Homo sapiens: one gene and its partners. The gene in region 1 interacts genetically with each later gene. Each region holds a gene or a part of one and is shown on either strand. Other genes may lie near its edges.

Region 1 (5,064 bases):
GGTATATCCTTGCTACATTGTTTATGTGACAGTTTTTAATTAAGTTATGATTTAGTACATTATACCTGTTGCTTTGCATCTGCAAAGTTAAAATAGTCACTTGAAGACAATTAAAACATTTCTTTCGACTAGTAATCTGCGACAGCAAACTGGGTTATAATAGCCGTTGAATCTGTGTTCCCATGTAAACTGTACACCAAATGCCAGTCAGCCCATGCCAATTAGTGCTCATGTTGCTAGGTCACCGTGGTCAATTGAAAGCTGCATCAATAGAACTTGAAAAGGTTTCCTCCCAATCAGACCTTCTGACATATTGAACAGAATAATGGATGGGAAAAAACAGCCAAGTCTCCTACCCTGGATTCAAAATACTCAGCAGTAAGAATTCATTTGCAACCTGCAATTAAGTAGAAAGAATGGATCCAAGAACGAGTCTGGACATTTTTGAAAATAAAGCCTCATTCTCCTGTCTTGTACATGTTTACTCTTTGGATAGCATCTTAAATGTAGCCATCTTGGTGATCTTGGGTCTACATCTTTAAGTGACTAAAAAGGAAATTTCCCAATTGAAAATGAACAAAATAACTTTTAAAAGTCAGAACTTCTCAGTTGAGTTTAAACATCCATTGTAATAAATGCTGATGCTTCATGAAACATGTTAGATTATACTGGATATAAGGGACACAAAGGCCATTCTGATACTCTGTATCCCATATGATAAATCCAGGTAAATTGGATTGTACTAAAATTTGGAGATGATACCTGCCGATTTTAGGCTTTGTGCTGTATAATAGGTGTGGCTTCTGATGTAAAACTGGTACTTTCCTACAGAGGCGTTGGGGCTGAACCTCTGCTCCCATGGAACCGGATGCTGCAAACCCAGAATGCAGCCTTCCAGCCAAACCAGTACCAGATGCTAGCTGGGCCTGGTGGGTATCCACCCAGACGAGATGATCGTGGAGGGAGACAGGTAAATGGTTGTGGGATGAAAAGTATACTGCTCACTTTATATTTCAACAAGCCTCACAGGACTCCGTATTTTCTTACCAACATTTCTGGAGAAGACACTGATAGAGTAGCTTAGAGTAGCTTGGCTGAACTTGGGTCTGTCATTAAAAATGTATATGGGTTGAGTACCTGCTTCACTAAATAGGTTATATACCTTGAAGATGCCAAAGAATTTCTAACCCAAAAGCCCTTTAAATCATAGCAGTCAGTGATAATTAGTCCAAGTATAGTCAGTCACCAAAACACATTGTTTTTCCTTTAAGGATATTGTTCTTCAATAGAACCTAGATCCCTCTTAATGGGTGATGATTTTCTGGAAGCTGGAAAGTAAGTCTGCTTTTTCAGCTGTTGTCTTTTAGAAGTCATTTTACAATGTTGTCATTTTAGAAGTCTCCTGCCTTGATTCATCTGATATCCCTCCTCATAAAAGAAATTTCTGCTTGATAATCTTCCACATATTTTTCTTCTCAATGTAAGCAGCTGTATCACTGAATGACTATCATAATTCCTAGACAAATTTAGTATATGTAAGCTTCATGTCCTTCTCTTTACAGCATCCAGTTTTAGCAGCATTTAAGACTGAGGTCTATTTGACATAATTTCCTCCAGCAATTTGACACCCTGGCCAGTATTTACATGCTCTTAATGGAATCCTTACTAGAGAACAAGATTAGAATGCTGTGATTCAGAGTAATGTGTATGGAGTTTGGCACCTGCAGTGATGTGAAGTGGTTTTTAAATTGCTTACCTGGTGTTGCCTCCAGGCCTTTTGCAGTGCTTCACATATTAATTAGTAAGACCTCTCTTCTCACAGCTAAGGAACATATTTTGTATGTTTTTTGATGTATTCTTACAAGTATCTCCACCTTACAAGAAGATAATCACCTTAATTGCAAATAATTTCTTCTGAGATTTTGTTACAGTTTATTTGAATCAGTTTATCGAATTTTGCTTTGAATTCTTTCAGCCCAGGACCTCTAAAAATCGTGTCAGTGAACTAAGGCTCTTTATGTTACTATGGTTAGATGGCACTAGGCCGTTTCAGTGATGAGCATTTTTGAAGTGAGGACTATTTGTAACTGGAAGAAACCTTGGAGAATGTGTAGTCTAGTCACCTCATTTTCCAAGTCAGGAACTGAAACCCTGAAAACCCCACACGGTTCAGCAGGAGAACTGGTAGCTGGCTGCCTAGACTGCTGACCCCAGTTCATCCATTTTCCTCTCTCCTTTGGAGATCTTCCTTTTAAAGGAACTCTGTGCTGTTACAGGAGGTAAAATTCTTATTTACTTAGAAGATATAAACCAATTGGTAAATTTATTATTCTTTTAGGACTTTTTGAAAATAACATTTCTTCTTTCTCAGTCCCTTTGCCAGGGAGATACTTTTTATTAAATCACAATTGTTGAAGCACTATTAAATTGCAGAAGTTTGTTGTTAAAAACATAGAATCATTACTTCATTGTATTTTTAGTAAAGTTTTATATGACCAAACAAGGCCTTAGCCTGCATTCTGGCCTTGAGTCTGCACATGTTCATGTTTAAAGTACTGAAGTGCTCTCTGGGTGGCAAAATGAGGTGGGAGGGGGTTCCATTTCAAAACCCTAGAGGCCTAGGAAAGGACTTATAATGAAGAGGTGTCAGGTTTATCTTTTGTTATACAGAAATGTTATTTGCAAACATACTAGGATATGTTATAAAGGTCACGGCTAATGGATTGTGTAATAACCTTAATATGTCATTTAAAGCCCTACTATTTGTTGCTAAATAAAAAATCCCTAAAATCAATTGCTCATTTGGCCTTAACTGACTTAGCAAGCTCTTGCCTTGGTTAAAGCAAAGTTACTTTCCTTGTGTAATAAGTCTAAATTGATGTGGGTATCTTACCACAAAGTGACTTGAATTACTACTGCTAGGACAGTGAGAAAATTGAGAACCACTGTCTGTACATGTTGTTTACACAGAACACTTTAGTTATTTGTGTGCATTTGTGATTGTTAAGGTTTTTTGTTTTATTTTTCAGTAATAGCATTTGTGCTAGCCTCCAACTTTGCAACAAGTCTGTATTAAAGCTCTGGATCAAAGCACCTTTTATGGGGCCTTTCCATGTGCTGTACCTTTAACACATACTCAGTTTCCTTATGATGTGTTTTTCCATAGAGGTTTAAAGTTAACTGACTTGCAGGAGTATCGGTCCAGAAAATAAACTCTTTCTTTTGTTTATTTTCAGGGATATCCCAGAGAAGGAAGGAAATACCCTTTGCCACCACCCTCAGGAAGATACAATTGGAATTAAGCTTTTGTAAAGCTTTCCCAAATCCTTTCATCATTCTACAGTTTTATGCTATTTGTGGAAAGATTTCTTTCTCAAGTAGTAGTTTTTAATAAAACTACAGTACTTTGTGTATTTCTTTTAACTGTGTATATTTCTACTGATCTGATCTCACTGTTTATGTTGCTTTCCAAAGATGTATGTTGCATAATACAGTGGATCTGAATTTATTATTGCTTATAAAACACATTTGATGGAATAGGAGTACTGGTTTTTCATAATGGTTAAAAATGAAACCAGCTGTGGATTTCAAAACACAGTGTATTCTAGATCATCTAAGATCCATGCTGATTTTTATTGCACAAGAATTAGGTTTGAACTCGAGCTGGAACCTCAGCAAACTAGAGTATATATTGTTCAGTATTTCTTTGGAAACATTTCATTAATGTACTTGTCTTACAGAAATTTCTGAACTTTAGTAAAAAAAAATAAAGTTAAACTTTTAAAACTCTGTTTTGTGTTGTTATTTTGCAGTATTTCAACTTTGAAAATCTTGACCAAGCGTGGTTTTTTAAAATTAACTTTTGCAGAAAACTATTTCTGTAATCAGATGTCCAAACCAAAGGACAAAGAAGTCAATGAAGAAGTAGATTTTAAAAGATAGGGTCAGCAAGACATAACAAAAGCTTTAACTTTGTTGTATTATGTCAGTGACTGATCTGGCTAACTCAGAAATCTTTGTGAGATAAATTACATTTTTACAAATTTAATGTAGACTTCTCCAGTTTTAAGGACTTGTTTTAAATCTTCAAGTTGACAATTTTAATTAATGGCCAAATAGTCTATGCTCCTTAGCATATTTTTGTATGTCATTAGATTGCAATTTGTACTCATGTTTTTCCTTGCTACTAAGTACACTATAAATTGCTTAAATGTGTGTTTGGAGTTCACATACAGCACTTACATATGCATTTTCATTTGATTGCCAAAACATATTTAGACACACATACAGAGACTATTGCTTTGTTTCAGTTTTTCCCTCCTAGCCCAAGATTGTGAGGTAAAGCTTCTCTTTGACCTCCTGACTTAGGATATTTTTGCTTTAATATTCAACTGAAGCACGCTTGTTAAACTTAGTCTGTGGGAAAAAAAAAAATCTCACCTCAACCTTGAATAGGAAGGTATTTTGTAGCTATTGAGTTCATTGCTAATGATGGGTGACCAGAGCAGGATCCTTTATTGTTGAGACAAAGAGTCTCTCCATCAGGAATTACCAACCCAACCCTTACATAATTGCCTTCGCTCAACATTCAAGTGATAATGCCTTCTATTAAATTTCTCTGTAAGTTTATCTCCCAAATATTAAAAATGTAGACAGCCATCTCAGTAAAGCATTGCATATTCTAAAGGAGCTTATAAATGTTTTACTGTTTATAGTTCATAGTCAAAACCCACAATTCCACTCTTTATATTCTCAGACCTTTAGTTTTGGCTTAGTTTTAAGCTGGCCTGAGACTGACTCAGTTTTTGACTGAATGTTTAAAGCACTGTTTGGAAGACATCTGAGCAAAAGGCCTGATGGAGAAACTGATGACGGCAGATTTCCTCTGCAGAACTGGCAGGTGTTCCCTCGCTGAGCCGGCTTCAGGCCCTGCTCCGTGACCTCACCCTTGCTTCTTCCTCTCCATCCTTAGTCTTCATCTCTTTCCAACTTGGTTCCGCGTTTGAATCTTCCAGGAAAATGCCCTGCCCATTTCAATCAGCAAAATGCTTTTCAGAGCTTTAA
Region 2 (5,066 bases), on another chromosome or scaffold:
TGAAGCAAGTGACGCAGCTGGCCATCGACACCGAGGAACGCCTCAAAGGGGTCATTGACCTCATTTTTGAGAAGGCCATTTCAGAGCCCAACTTCTCTGTGGCCTATGCCAACATGTGCCGCTGCCTCATGGCGGTTAGTTTCCAGTGGGTTCTAAATCTAATGGTCTGGTTGCCCATTCCTATTCCCAAGACTCCTTGAGTCCAGCTTCTTGGTTCCCCTCCAACTTGTGCCTCTTCCAGCTGGAAGGAGGCAGAGCTGGGGCCAGAGATCTTCCTGGGTCAGGTAGTTAAAGGCTCTTGGAGGGCCTTCCCTGCCCAGGACTAGTCTTGAGTGTGACATTCTCTCTGACCTACAGCTGAAAGTGCCCACTACGGAAAAGCCAACAGTGACTGTGAACTTCCGAAAGCTGTTGTTGAATCGATGTCAGAAGGAGTTTGAGAAAGACAAAGATGATGATGAGGTTTTTGAGAAGAAGCAAAAAGAGATGGATGAAGCTGCTACGGTGAGAGAAAACCCACTATCGATTCCACTCACCACTTACCTCCTTCCCTTACCCAGATGCTACTCAGCTGTAGAATTTGGAATGGAGGTAGTGGTGTCTTGGGGATTTCTCTGGCTCAGGACGTTTTTTTTCCTTTTTGAGACAGTCTTGCTCTGTCACCCAGGCTGGAGTGCAGTGGTGTGATCTTGGCTAGCCTCCACCTCCTGAGTTCAAGCGATTCTCCTGCCTCAGCCTCCCAAGTAGCTGGGATTACAGGCATGTGCCACCATACCTGGCTAATTTTTTTGTATTTTTAATAGAGACGGGGTTTTACCATGTTGGCCAAGCTGGTCTCAAACTCCTCCTGACCTCAAGTGATCCGCCTGCCTCAGCCTCCCAAATTGATGGGATTACAGGCATGAGCCACTATGCCCAGCCAGCCGGCCTCAGGACTGAGTGCTTATTGCTAGGTTTGGATATCCAGGTAGAAAAGGGTTTTAGCCGAGTGGCTGGTTATCTTTTTGACACAATCCCTGTCCTGTGAATGGCAGGCAGAGGAACGAGGACGCCTGAAGGAAGAGCTGGAAGAGGCTCGGGACATAGCCCGGCGGCGCTCTTTAGGGAATATCAAGTTTATTGGAGAGTTGTTCAAACTGAAGATGTTAACAGAGGCAATAATGCATGACTGTGTGGTCAAACTGCTTAAGAACCATGATGAAGAGTCCCTTGAGTGCCTTTGTCGTCTGCTCACCACCATTGGCAAAGACCTGGACTTTGAAAAAGCCAAGGTAGAGGTCCTTGCATCTGGAGGGGGATGGGCTGAAGCATATGTGGGGCTCACTGAGCCCACAATGATGGGGCGGAAGGCCTGAGGAGGGGTGGGGCCTGCAGTTATAGGTGGGACATGAGAAGTTCCTGGTCTGATGCCTTTCTCCTTCCTAGCCCCGAATGGATCAGTATTTCAACCAGATGGAAAAAATCATTAAAGAAAAGAAGACGTCATCCCGCATCCGCTTTATGCTGCAGGACGTGCTGGATCTGCGAGGGGTGTGTGTCCCCCTCCTCCCCACTGCCAGCCTGCTGCCTCCAGTTTCTGACACTGCCTTGTCTTGCCTTCCCTGACATCATCGTGACTGGCCCTCTGTCTCCACAGAGCAATTGGGTGCCACGCCGAGGGGATCAGGGTCCCAAGACCATTGACCAGATCCATAAGGAGGCTGAGATGGAAGAACATCGAGAGCACATCAAAGTGCAGCAGCTCATGGCCAAGGGCAGTGACAAGCGTCGGGGCGGTCCTCCAGGCCCTCCCATCAGTGAGTTCCAAGCTGGGATTGAGAAGGGAGCAGTGAAGGGACCGGGAGGTTATACTTTCCTCTGATGACTTCCTGTTAGTGCCACGTGTCTGGGCCACTGAGACACCATGATGGAACTGAGGATCTGAGGAAGGGAGGCTGGGGGTGGCCCAAGGGGAAGGGGCTGCTAGGATTTATTCATTATTCCAGTATGCCCCTCTTTTTGTGTCAGGCCGTGGACTTCCCCTTGTGGATGATGGTGGCTGGAACACAGTTCCCATCAGCAAAGGTAGCCGCCCCATTGACACCTCACGACTCACCAAGATCACCAAGGTAGGGGTGTGTGTGGGAGTGGGTGATTCAGCTCAGGTTTAGATCTTAGTCCCTTCACTTTTCTAAAGTTGAGAAGGTGACAGCTGAATGTTTCCTCTTAGACTAACTGGTTGGATTGCTGGAGACAGGACTGCCAGCTGTAGAGGGAGGGTGGTACTCCCATTAGTCTGGACCAGTGTTTGGCAAACACACACACACACACACACACACACACACACGTGCCAGATCCAGCCCATTCATACATCCCAGGACCCAGTAGTGGTTTTTACATTTTAAAGTTGCGAAAAATCAAAAAGTGAATGGTAATTTATGCTGTGGAAATTAAATAAAATGTAAATGTCAGTGTCCATGAAGTTTTATTGGAACACAGTCACAGCATGCCTTTATCATCTACAGCTGGTTTCATGCTACTGTGGCAGAATTGAGTAGTTGCAATAGAGACTGGCCCTTTATTAAAAAAGATTTTCTGACCCCTGGACTGGGCCATTCACTACCTGTTTGGTTGCATATGGTGGTGCTGGCCAAGGGACTCAGCCGGGTTGGACCTATGATTCTACTCCCCTTTTCTTCTTCAGCCTGGCTCCATCGATTCTAACAACCAGCTCTTTGCACCTGGAGGGCGACTGAGCTGGGGCAAGGGCAGCAGCGGAGGCTCAGGAGCCAAGCCCTCAGACGCAGGTATGGAGGCAGTGTCAGGAGCTGGGTGGTTACCCGTCAGAGCTCCCTTGAGGACAGAGCCTTTTCTGTTAGGGAGGCCTTCAGTACAAGGTGGTTAGGCAATGCGGGCAATAGAGGAGGTTTGTGTTGTGGTTCCAGGGATTGAACTGCTTTACTTTTGGGACTGGGACCAAGTGTCCTAAACTGGCAAGTAGGGGATAAAATGCAGGAAAGGAGAAAAAGATTTTAATACGGATTTTCTGCATCCCCAGCATCAGAAGCTGCTCGCCCAGCTACTAGTACTTTGAATCGCTTCTCAGCCCTTCAACAAGCGGTACCCACAGAAAGCACAGATAATAGACGTGTGGTGCAGAGGTGAGGTTTCCTGGACATCTTTGTTATTCACACTGGGGGTACCGTGATTGGGTTCTGGTTGTTGCCATAGGTTGGAAATTTCTTCATACCTGTCCTGGTTGGAGCCCTTGGGTTAGATTGGGGCATACTCATTATGCTAAGAACAAGGCCCAACAGTTGCTCAGCATGTTGTGTAATTACATGAGTGCCTGGGCAGTGCAAGTGAGTGAAAATTTGTCTGTCTGTCTTCCAGGAGTAGCTTGAGCCGAGAACGAGGCGAGAAAGCTGGAGACCGAGGAGACCGCCTAGAGCGGAGTGAACGGGGAGGGGACCGTGGGGACCGGCTTGATCGTGCGCGGACACCTGCTACCAAGCGGAGCTTCAGCAAGGAAGTGGAGGAGCGGAGTAGAGAACGGCCCTCCCAGCCTGAGGGGCTGCGCAAGGCAGCTAGCCTCACGGAGGATCGGGACCGTGGGCGGGATGCCGGTGAGAGTCTGGGAGAGGAATGGAGGGAAAGGCATTGGCTGCCTTGGGACTAGCTGGTCCCCAGCTTTTTGAGAGCTCCAAATCTTGTTTGCTGGGAAGACTGAAAAGTCCCTCTAATCTGTGTTCTCTTCCCACAGTGAAGCGAGAAGCTGCCCTACCCCCAGTGAGCCCCCTGAAGGCGGCTCTCTCTGAGGAGGAGTTAGAGAAGAAATCCAAGGCTATCATTGAGGAATATCTCCATCTCAATGACATGAAAGTAGGCAGTGGGAGCGGCGTGTGATTGAGGAGTGGGCAGGGAGGGATCATGCTGGCAGGCATAGGGGTCCGGGGTCTGGGTCAGACAGTGACTGGTCTCTTCCTGCTGTGCCCTGCACCCCTCAGGAGGCAGTCCAGTGCGTGCAGGAGCTGGCCTCACCCTCCTTGCTCTTCATCTTTGTACGGCATGGTGTCGAGTCTACGCTGGAGCGCAGTGCCATTGCTCGTGAGCATATGGGGCAGCTGCTGCACCAGCTGCTCTGTGCTGGGCATCTGTCTACTGCTCAGTACTACCAAGGGTATGACCAGCTTCTCTGGGCCTCCCACTTATACAGACCCACAATTTTCTATCTCCTTTTTGGGACCCTTGGAACCTTGCATAAGAGTGTAGGTTCCCTGGCCGGGTGTGGTGGCTTATGCCTGTAATCCCTGCACTTTGGGAGGCCAAGGTGGGTTGGATTCCTTAGAGGATCACGTGAGGTTGGGAGTTCTAGACCAGCCTGGCCAACATGGTGAAACCCTGTCTCTACTAATAATACAAAAATTAGCCAGGCGTGGTGGCACAGTAATCCCAGCTACTCGGAGGCTGAGGCAGGAGAACTGCTTGAACCCGGGAGGTGGAGGTTGCAGTGAGCCGAGATCGTGCCATTGCACTCCAGCCTGGGTGACAAAAGCAAAACTGTCTCAAAAAAAAAACCAAAAAACAGTATGGGTTCCTTGACCATCCTGGTCAGCATAACTTTAGGGGGTTAAGCGGGGTGAAAACCATCTAAGGACACAGAGGTGGCCTTAGCTTGAAATAATTGTCCCCATGTCTAGAAAATGTTCCTGGGGGTTCCATAGTTGATGCCCTAGCCATGCCACGTTGCCCCAGAAGGAGAGTGGGGACCTGGCCTAGAATGTCTTGACTTTGAATTCCCTTGGCAGGTTGTATGAAATCTTGGAATTGGCTGAGGACATGGAAATTGACATCCCCCACGTGTGGCTCTACCTAGCGGAACTGGTAACACCCATTCTGCAGGAAGGTGGGGTGCCCATGGGGGAGCTGTTCAGGTAAGTCCCCCTGGGTGGAATTCAGGGGAGGTAAAGACCAGAGGAAAGGTGGTAGGGAAATGGCTGGGTTGGATACCCTGGTTTGGAGGGAGATGGAGTAGTGGTGAGAGAACTGTGGAGGCTGTCAGCATTAGGTTTTTCTCTTCTTGTAGG
Region 3 (5,066 bases), on another chromosome or scaffold:
AAGTAAAACAAAGCATTCATTAAGCAAAGGTTTTTATGGTTGATATTTTAGTGTGGGAGAGGCAGATACAATTCATGTTTGATAATACAGCAAATCTGAAATTTTTGTCAGTTGCCACAATTTGGATAACGATCGCTGGAGTTTACCCTACACAGTGATCTGAATCAGATTATTTTGGATGCTTTCCTTTTAGTTAAAAATCTATTTTTTAAAAAATAAATCTTAGAAGCTTAAGGATTATAGAAGGCTATTTTAAAATAGGGTAGGAATTATTACAGTCAGAATTAAATAGATGCATCTGAGCATTTCTGGACAATTGTCAGCTGCTGTCAGTCACTGCCCTGACTTTCCGTATGCTTGACTCTCTATATATAGAGTGTGTGTATATATATAAACTATAATAGAATGTATTATATATATTTATATATTATATAAATTTATATTTATATATTATAAATTTATATTTATATATTATATAAGTTTGTTTATTATAAGTTTTATATAAATATATACTCTAATATATATTTTACATATAATTATATACTGTATATATAGAAGCAAGCATATGGAAAGTAATACATATATATATATATATATATATATATATATATATATAAAATCATTTATTCAACAAATACTTAACAGTGCCAAGCTCTGTCCTAATTACTTGCCATACAGCAGTGGACAATATAAAGATAGAGCCTCCCCTCTAGAGTAGAGAGAAGACAGTCAAGTAAAGTATAGTGTATCATATAGTGACAGGCGCTATGGAGTGATACCAGGTAAAGAGGGGAGAGATTTCTGTGAGGGAGAAGTTACTATTTTATGTAAGTTGATTAGAGAAGGCTTCGGTGTGAATGGCATTTGAACAAAGACTTGCCGGAGGTAAGGTAGCAGCCATATAGCTGTATGGGGAAAAGCTGTGATCCAAAGGTAACCATGGGCACAAAAGCCTGAAGACTATAGGGTTCCTGTCATGTTAACAGAAGAGCAAGGAGGCCAGTGGTGCTGGAGCAGAGTGAGTGAGGGGGAAGTTGTAGGAGATAAGATTAGAGAGATAGCAGAGGGTTGCATCTTATAGGGAGATTATAAAATTATACTTCTGTGTTGAGACTCGACTATCAAAGATTAAGGGGGGTAGGATTAGGAGGCTATACCAATGAAGTTCATGTAGTAGTCCATTTATAAACAAGGAAAAGGAAATGCTAAATGGAAAGTAATGTGTATGGATACTAGTCCAGTGCTAAATCTTAACTAATTGCTTAGACTTGCTTTAAAAATGTCTCTGAAGCTTTTTAGTTACTATGGGATATGCAGTCCATTGTTTGTTCTTTTAAGAAAGTATTTAGATTGTTCAAAATCTTAGCTAGAAACAATACGAATACAATTTTGGGAATTTGGGCAATTTACAAAAATTTCAGATTTGCTGTATTAGCCCCATTTAAGCTTCTTAGAATTAGGTCCTTGTCTTTTGGACTGTGGCTGATTTTTTTACTTAACTAAAGAAAAAAATAGAAGTGAAAGGATTTGTTATTTTGAGAGAGTATAGTTTATTTCAGAAGTGATGGTTGCCTGTTTTAAGTCTGCGGGCTCAAGGCATGTTATCTTTCAAGTTGTTCAATATCAAAATAGATGAGCCAAAAAGAAGGGAACAGTGTGCTTAAGGTTTAAAAACGTAATGTTGAAGTTGTTGGTTTTAGTTACTTTACTTTTCTATTTTACAGGGTTGGTTTTTGTTTTCCATTTTGTGGGTCTAAAATTTCTTGTAAGGCTATAAGATGTACAGTGTACCCGTATAAAATTAGGATTGACTTATAGAGGGGAAATTTATTTGGTTTATTAAGATCCTTTCAGATGGATTTTATACCTGCTTCTCTATACTAGCCAAGTCTGTCTGAGTGAAGTGGTAATGTTATCTTTAATTTACATTTTAAAACTTTTACATAGTTAAATTTTAATAAAAAATCTGTTCTTGCCTTGGGAACTACCATAGATACGTTTTCTTCAGGGTACATTGAGCGAATTCCCCAAATTGTATTCGTATTGTTTTATTTCATTTCCCTGTTCCCTTACCCAGGTTGTCTTATGAGTTCAATATCATGTTTCTGTTCGTAAGTTCAGATTTTGTCTGTAGTCTTCACCCCTTTATAGTCTCTCAACTATCAGGTGAAAGTGGAACATTTCTTACCTCTTAATACTTTCTGCCTCCTCCCATTCTCCAGACAAATATTGTCCTTTAATATAGCCAAAATGAACAAAGGGTTTGCAGTTCAGAGATGTGACTATGTACATGTATTTTCTAGTTGTTTCTCAGAAATCATACCTTCTCTTCCCACAGCACTATTTTCCCCTTTTCAAGCTTATAAGAGGGCCTAGGAGGGTTGCTTTAAAGGCTGTGGTATGATTCCAAACTGGAACAAGCCAGCTGGAAAGTTAAGTTAGGAAGACTGTAGAGGTGGAATAAAGGGTTGGCAAAATAGATGAGCCAGAAAGAAGGGAACAGTGTGCTTAAGGTTTAAAAAACAGCAACAAAAAATAACTGCTCTCATTCAGCTAGTTTTTCAGCATCTGCATTCTCCCAACCTCACTGAAATTTGGTTCTGAGGAGCTCTGCTTTCTAGAATACGGTTTCTTAACATCAGCACTATTGACATTCTTGGCCAGTTATTTGTTTTGGGAGATGCCCTATGCAACGTGAGATATTTAGCAGCATGCCTGGCCCCTACCCACTAGATGCCAGTTGCTTCCCCTAGTTTTGACTACTAAAAATGTCTCCAAGGTTTGCCAGATGACCACTGGGGGCAAAATCTACACCCTGTTGAGAACTACTGCTGTAGAAGAAGGCTATTTGAATGTCCTAGCTGGCAGCTTGCGTAAATATTACATCAATTATGCTTTTTTTCAATAAGTGAATCCTGGAAATGAAAGACCTTTGTGTGAAATTTGGCACTTTGGGTGGTGGAACCTTGATAGGTCCTGTGACTTAGGTTTGATCTATACTTAAGAATCAAGGTCCCTGAACCTCTGTGCCACACATGTCTACAACTTTACACAGGCAGATATCTCCAGGAATAAATACATCTCAGCTCTCATGCTGCATGCGTATTATACTTTTTGTGGCATTATCCTTTCAAAATTATAGTCAGTGGACATTCAGTCAGGTTATCATGGTAATTAATGGGTTGGGAAGTTGACGTACAGAGTGTCTTACCCTGTAACCTTTATAATACCCCCCCTCAGATCCTATGTGGATAGTAATAGATTCGTTTTATTCAGCTTCAGTTCATGTGGTATCTGAAGATCATTTCAGTCATTCAATAGATTTAACATTCCAAGCTTAGAATAGCCAGGTGCTGTGTTTTATGAGAATCACCATACATCATTTTCAAGCCAAGTGTTCCATAGGCAAGTAAGTGATTATGAACTTTGTAACAATAATTCCTTTGGCTGTTCAGATCTGAAGATTGAAGTTATATGTAACTTGCTACTGTGTAACCATATATCCAACTGCAGATTTTCATTATTAATACCGATTCCCTGCACAGTTACAGGCTCTTGCTTTCTTGTCCATATGCCGACCAAATAATTGAATCAATGGAAGTCGAAAATTGGATTGTATTAGACTAGCCAAAGTGTTTAGCAGCAGCATCAGGTTCCATACTTAACACTATTATTTTAATTTTTTAAGCTTTATGTTATACCACAAAAGGACTTAGGTGAGTGTGTTAAGGCTTTAAACAAAGTGGTAAGAGATACAAACAGCAAGGGTCTTAATAGACAGGTGTTTGAGGTTAATTTTTAGCACACCTTCATTCAACTTGAATTGTTGAGCAATCAAAAAGACAGATGCTTGGTAATGATTTTAGAATGGTAGATTTAAAAAACATAGAGATTATTCGAATGATATGGTTTTTAAATAAAGCAGTTATCAGTAATTCAGTTAATAAAAGCTAGTTAAAGCAGGAATTGTAAAACGTGGTCCTTTTTTCCACCAATTTTTTGATATAGTGCTCAGGACTTTTCTTTGAATATACGTATACTGACTGTCGTTCCCATTATTTAGGATAAACTATACCGTTGTGCTGCATCATATGCAGAACTGAAATTGTTAATTGAAGACTTGAGATTAGAGCTTAGAAACATGTGAAGCAAGTGAGAAATCCTAATGTTTTATGCTCCTTTTTCCCATCTTTTGAAGCTTTCCTCTTTATAGCTGATATGACAGCTTTTTTTTCTGATCAAGTCTTTCCAAAGCATTCGACTTGGTTTTGCACCCTTATTTTGTCATTTACATAATACATTATTAGACTAATGAATACTACTGGTACTAACAGGTTTCGGAACAAGCAACTGAGGATCAGTAAACAACTCAAGTTAAAAGAATGGGAGTAGCGGTACATGAGTATTCTAACTACTAGTGTTTAACATGTTGTTGGCAGCTTTCCAGCTTGTCCACAGAAATGGACAGGGCTGCTGATTGCATAGCTCCATGGGCACTACTCACACAAAATTTAACATAAATAATGCCTCCTGGAGTTATTGTATATAGTGGCTCTGGGAATGGGAGGCTGTTGGTTAATCTAGCTTAGTCTGAGAAATGGAGGGTCTGTGAAGAGCTTCTACTCTGTAAAAACATAGGGCCTGGTAGAAAAGAGATTATAACCTAAAAAGGTTAAATAAAATTTGTGATAGCAGATTTATCATGTAATGTTAATTTTTTATGTTGCTGAAATAGGTGGGCAGCCTCACAAAAGGAGAAAGACCTCTGATGCAAATGAAACTGAAGATCATTTGGAATCTTTAATATGTAAAGTAGGAGAAAAGGTATGTCACACAATAGGCACAGGCTGTGATGGGTTTAAGAATGTGGTTAACTGTGCTTTGATTAATTTTTGCAGCTGAAAAGTTGGACTACATTTTGGCAAAGCTGGTATTACCATGCATCTGTATCCCAAATTGAATCCATGTTGAAGCCCCTGGGATGTAGATAATTGATCATTTTTAGTACTTTAGTAATTAATAATTTTCATAGAAGATGAGCCCTTAGAAGGGACCTAGGGTATAGA
Region 4 (5,066 bases), on another chromosome or scaffold:
GTAAAAACCCCCATTTTACTTAACTTTTACTTTTACTTTGTACAAACCATGTTAATTGAGATGTTGGTCTTTTCTTTGACCAACCAAAAAAGCATAGAATTCAATTAGTTCACTTCTATAAACATTCTATTATGTGCAGGGGACTGAAAGTAAAAGCTTATAAAGGCACTGTCCCTCCCCTTAGGATGATCATTTTATTATGATATAAATGATTATTATAGAGGCAAGCACAAGATATGCTGGTTTCAAAGAGGAAGCATACCTTAGTAAGTTGGTTAACTAAGTAAAGGATGAGGAAACAGGAGTAGAGTATGCTTGAAAAGAGAATGGATCAGCATGGTGTGTGCTGAAAATAACAGTTTTGTGCTTGCTGGAGCATAACATCTAAGAGACAAGGAATGATTGCAGTCATGAGCAAGAAACCAGGTCTCAGAGGTCGTTTCCTAGTATGCTACAGTAACTGAGACTGTGTCCTATTGGCACCAGTGGCAAGGAAATGCTTTCTATTTTAGAGTACTAGCAACATTGTTGAGAATTGGATTCAAGGCAGTCAAGAATAAAGCTAGCCTTGAAGCTATTGTATTAATCCACCTTAGATATGCTGAGAATTATGAGCCTTTTATTTTAGTCTAGATCATCATTTTCTTACAGCTTCTGTAATACTTGTTATTCAGAAAAGTAAACAGAAAAGGCTTTCAGTATCAAAATGTTATATACATGGCAGTTTTAATAACAATTCCTTTAAACGTCATTTGTAGTGCTACAAAAGTAGAAACTTTTCATCCTAGAAAATGTATGAAATAGAAAAGAACAATATGAAAATGAAAACTTACCTGAATTAACTCCATCTATAGTTAAGTCTCTTTTTTGATGTAAATATCTTTAAAACTCTTTAGTTTTGAGCGTGTGTGACTCTGTGTGTGTGTGTTCCAAATAATATAACACAAACTGGCAGCACCAAGCTATATTTAATGATATTCAGTGTTTAATATTTAATGATTGAAGCTGTGCGTTTACACACACAGATGTGCACACACATAACCAGCATAGGGCTGTTGTTATTAATTGAAGGACCTTTATTAAATGTAATATTTCCATGTGTTGTTTTTTTTCTCCCCCAGCTATGGGAGGTTTATGGAGAACGGCGCTGTCTGAGAACATTTATTGGTAATGCTTCTTTTCTCTCCAACATAAATCTGGGAAGAATTTTTAAAGTAAGATAACATCATTGACAATAACTTTACTACACCGATAGGAAGTAAACTCTTCATAGATTTCAGCTGAATCTGGAAGGAGGAGTCAGTGTCCCCAGTTAGACAAAGAAAGAGAACTAGGAAGCAAGAGCAGCGGATGCAAAACAAAAATGGTGTGAGACAGCGTGCTGCTGAGGGGATCCACGTACATTTCAGGATTGTCAGAGTATGGGGGATGGTGAGAGACAAAAGCGGAGAAAAGTAGCAAGAGAGGGACCAGAGTATGGAAGACCTCCTGTGCCATTAATAAAGAGTTTAGCCTCTGTTGTGAGGGCATTGGGGAACCATTAAAGAGCTCTTGCCGGAAAGCAACATGATTTGAAGTTTACAAAGATCAAATGGCAATATGCAGGATGATTTGGTAGGGCAAGCCTGGAGGAAGGGAAATTAATTACACAGTTATTTCATAGGTCTGGTTTAGAGATGATGAGCGCCTGAACCAAAGCAGCAGAGAGAGAAAAGAAAGGAACTACGTATTAGAGTTAAAGTCAGTGAGATTTAGTAACGGCATGTGAATGATCACAGTGAGACAGGAATCTAGAGTGACTCCCATGAGGCTGGATGAACGATGGTGCCATTCACCAAGAAGGAACATAAGATGATGGTAAGGTTTTAGATACACCAAATTTGAGCTGCCTTTGGGATATTGAGGTAAAAATGTTCAGTAAGCAATTAGATAGCCAGAGGTCGAGCTTTGAAGAGAGACTGGGAATTGACAGCTAAAGCATAAAAAAAGGATGAGATTGAGAGAACTCCTTGAAGAAAGAAAGAAGGCCAAAGGGAGGACAGCTTTGTGACAAACCAGATTTTTGGTAGAGAAAGGTTTATTGTCTTTGTCAGATTTCATGTGAAGGCTAGTTACTCATTCCAAATTTAACTGTACCACGTTGAAACGGTGTGACTCGTAGTGGCTCTGTTTTTAGATTAAAGTGGGAGTCTGTTCAGCAGTGCTTTATGATTTTAAGGCCTCCCTGCACAAATTAATACTGCCTAAGATGTCACCGCAGCCTAAAGGAAGACTTGTGGAAGGCTCTCAGCTGTGTACAGGGGAACAAAATGTCTCCATCAGATAGAGTGGATTTGGTCCGCATCTGTCTCCCCTCTACTGGCAGACCATTTTTCTGTGGAAAACTGAAATTTTCCTCCTGAAGGAGATGATAGAAGCTCTGACTGGGACTCCAGCTGTAGAAAAGGATGCCTAATTACCATGACACGTACCTCCTGATGGGAGTTCACTGGAGGTGATGGTTTAGAGCTGCTGCATGTGGTTAACAATTTGTGCCATGCTCATTTTGCACAATTGTACGTGTCTTGGTCATGGTGGGGTGGCAAAAATAGGAACATTTTTGCTTTTGTTTAGCCACATTTTATTTTTCCCTGTAACTTTTAAAAGAGTTGAGTGAACTGGCAATATTCATTTTTAAGTAAAGTATAATAATCAGCACCTTAAAATTAGTGTATTATCAAAATATCATCTTAAAGCAAAAGAAGGTAGCCTGGGCAACATGGCAAAACCCTGTCTCTACAGAAAATACAGAAATTAGCCAGGCGTTGTGGTGTGCACCTGTAATCCCAGCTACTCGAAAAGCTGAGGTGGGTGGATCGCTTGAGCCAGGAAGGTTGAGCTTACAGTGAGCTGAGATCCAGCCACTGCACTTCAGGCTGGGCAACAGAGCAAGACCCTATCTCAAAATAAAAATAAAAAACCATGCAAGCTAATATAGTTTTCAGAAAGTCTCCTACATTCTGAATCAGTTTCTATGAAATTTGGTAATGTGATCACAGAAATATACAATTATTGAACAAGGGCTACAGTTTCCTGAACTTTAGGTTTGGGGCACTTTGTTTTCACTTGCAGCCTGGTGGACATTCTGAGAGTGAACCTCCAAAATTCCAGCAGCCATTTCTTTCACTGGCAATAATTGGTCTTTTACATTTCCATAAATTCTTGGCTAGCTAGTCATCACTTGTATGTACTGCATATTAAGTAATTGCTATGGCAGACTTAAAAGAAAAGTTAAACCTTTTCCTCTTGGTTCTTAACCAAGATGTTATGCATCAGAATCACCTGAGGAGCTTCTTCAAGGGGAAAAAAACGCCCACATTCTGAAGCCCACACATAACATATTCTAAGTCAGTAAATCAGGCGGTGGCATTCCAGTGATCTTGACTCACAGCTGAGAACCACTGCTTAGTGCTGTTTGTCTTTATGGTGTTAATGTTTTAAGAGAAGAAGATATATGATACTTCACCTCATTGCTGTTTCTGTTGACTCCACCTTTAGGTCACAGTAAGGCTGTTAGGGATATCTGCTTCAATACTGCAGGAACACAGTTCCTCAGTGCAGCCTATGACAGGTATCTTAAGCTCTGGGACACTGAGACAGGTAAGAGTTCACTTATGCTAATACACATTCATCTTACAAGTTATTTATATTTGAAATGGTGTGAGTAGTCTTTTGTGGCAAAATGGCACCTTCTCTAACTGCTGATTCTCATACCATTCACTGTCAGCAAATATCACAAAATACATTTGTAAGTCGAAACTGAGCATGAGTAGCTCTTTCACTGTGAAACTTGTTTCCACCAGATAGATTTTATAAAGCAAACGTACTGACAAATAAGCAAAGTGGAAATCTTGTATAGGCCATCTAATTGATTTTTTTGTTCCCCTACATCACCTAGCACTGTGCATTGCACATAACAGAAGTGCAATAAATGTCTAATGAACAAAATTAAATGTATTTGCGCAAATTGATTAAAATGTAGGTCTCAACTTTCACAGGCCAGTTGGTTTTATATATTCACAGCCATACTAATTGCTGTTTATTAATTGATTCACATTAATATGTTGTGGCTAGTATAATTTTATGTAATTATAAAAATTATCTTACTATCTTATTGTCTTACTGTCATTACCCTTACTGCATCTGAAGGGTAATGATAATAGTTAATGTTTATTAAACATCATTTAACAGGCATAATTGCTAAGCACTGATATTCAGTGTCTCCTTCAATCTTAATTTATCCCTATGAGGTAAGTACTATTATTATATTATAGATAAGGAAACTGAGGCTTAAAGAGCTAACTTTTTCAGGGTCACACAGCTAATAAGTAGCAGACTTGGGTTCAAACGAAGCTCTCTCTGATGCCAAAGCCCATATTCTTCAGCACTTTAGCAGTGGTTCTCAATTCTGGCCACACATTGTAATCATCTGAAGAGCTTTAATATTACTGATGCCTGAGTCCTACCTTCAAAGGTATTTATATAATTGGTATGGCTATAGACTAGATGATTGTACTGTGTAGCCAAGGCTGAGAGACTACTATTTTGCAGATTCTTTTAAAAATCAAGATAAAATACACATACAGTAAAATGTATGAAGTGCCTAAATATTCAGTGATTTTTTTTTTTTTTTTTTTGGTAAACATATCTATGCAGTTGTCTACCACAAAGATCAAGATCTAGAACATTTGCGGCACTCAGTAAAGGTTTCTTATGCCCTTTTCCAGTCTGTGCCCACTGCCAGTAACCATAGTAACCACTTTTGTCATCATTTTCCTCTTCATTTTTCCTCTTCTTAAACTTCTTATAAACGAAATCATACCATTTTTTCTCTTTTGTTTCTAGCTCCAGCATAATATCTGAGATTCCCTCATGGCTTGTACCAGTAGTTTGTTCTTTTTTATTGCTTGCACTATTCCATTATATGAATGAAGTTATAATTTATTTATTCTACAATTGGTAGTACCGATTTACTTTTGAAAAAATTATTTTTAATCATTAAAAATCTGTGAAAAAGAACAAATGTA

What was found. A genetic interaction does not mean that the proteins touch.
Region 2: changes in XRN2 (region 1) and EIF4G1 together harm fitness more than expected from each alone (negative genetic interaction), as found in Homo sapiens cells (one large-scale study listed by BioGRID).
Region 3: changes in XRN2 (region 1) and NCBP1 together harm fitness more than expected from each alone (negative genetic interaction), as found in Homo sapiens cells (one large-scale study listed by BioGRID).
Region 4: changes in XRN2 (region 1) and CDC40 together harm fitness more than expected from each alone (negative genetic interaction), as found in Homo sapiens cells (one large-scale study listed by BioGRID).

The regions. Positions count from the first base shown.
Region 1 is NC_000020.11:21,386,037-21,391,100, forward strand, and holds the end of XRN2 (5'-3' exoribonuclease 2), read left to right. Parts: intron 1-831; coding exon 832-970; intron 971-3,236; coding exon 3,237-3,302; 3' UTR 3,303-3,789; downstream 3,790-5,064. UniProt on the Homo sapiens protein: Possesses 5'->3' exoribonuclease activity. May promote the termination of transcription by RNA polymerase II.
Region 2 is NC_000003.12:184,323,844-184,328,909, forward strand, and holds part of EIF4G1 (eukaryotic translation initiation factor 4 gamma 1), read left to right. Parts: coding exon 1-134; intron 135-357; coding exon 358-504; intron 505-1,034; coding exon 1,035-1,271; intron 1,272-1,425; coding exon 1,426-1,530; intron 1,531-1,636; coding exon 1,637-1,796; intron 1,797-1,852; exon of another isoform or gene 1,853-1,928; intron 1,929-2,007; coding exon 2,008-2,108; intron 2,109-2,683; coding exon 2,684-2,786; intron 2,787-3,037; coding exon 3,038-3,140; intron 3,141-3,372; coding exon 3,373-3,605; intron 3,606-3,742; coding exon 3,743-3,861; intron 3,862-3,986; coding exon 3,987-4,159; intron 4,160-4,787; coding exon 4,788-4,913; intron 4,914-5,065; coding exon 5,066-5,066.
Region 3 is NC_000009.12:97,636,059-97,641,124, forward strand, and holds part of NCBP1 (nuclear cap-binding protein subunit 1), read left to right. Parts: intron 1-4,735; coding exon 4,736-4,824; intron 4,825-5,066. UniProt on the Homo sapiens protein: Component of the cap-binding complex (CBC), which binds cotranscriptionally to the 5'-cap of pre-mRNAs and is involved in various processes such as pre-mRNA splicing, translation regulation, nonsense-mediated mRNA decay, RNA-mediated gene silencing (RNAi) by microRNAs (miRNAs) and mRNA export.
Region 4 is NC_000006.12:110,214,165-110,219,230, forward strand, and holds part of CDC40 (pre-mRNA-processing factor 17), read left to right. Parts: intron 1-1,121; coding exon 1,122-1,167; intron 1,168-3,537; coding exon 3,538-3,639; intron 3,640-5,066. UniProt on the Homo sapiens protein: Required for pre-mRNA splicing as component of the activated spliceosome. Plays an important role in embryonic brain development; this function does not require proline isomerization.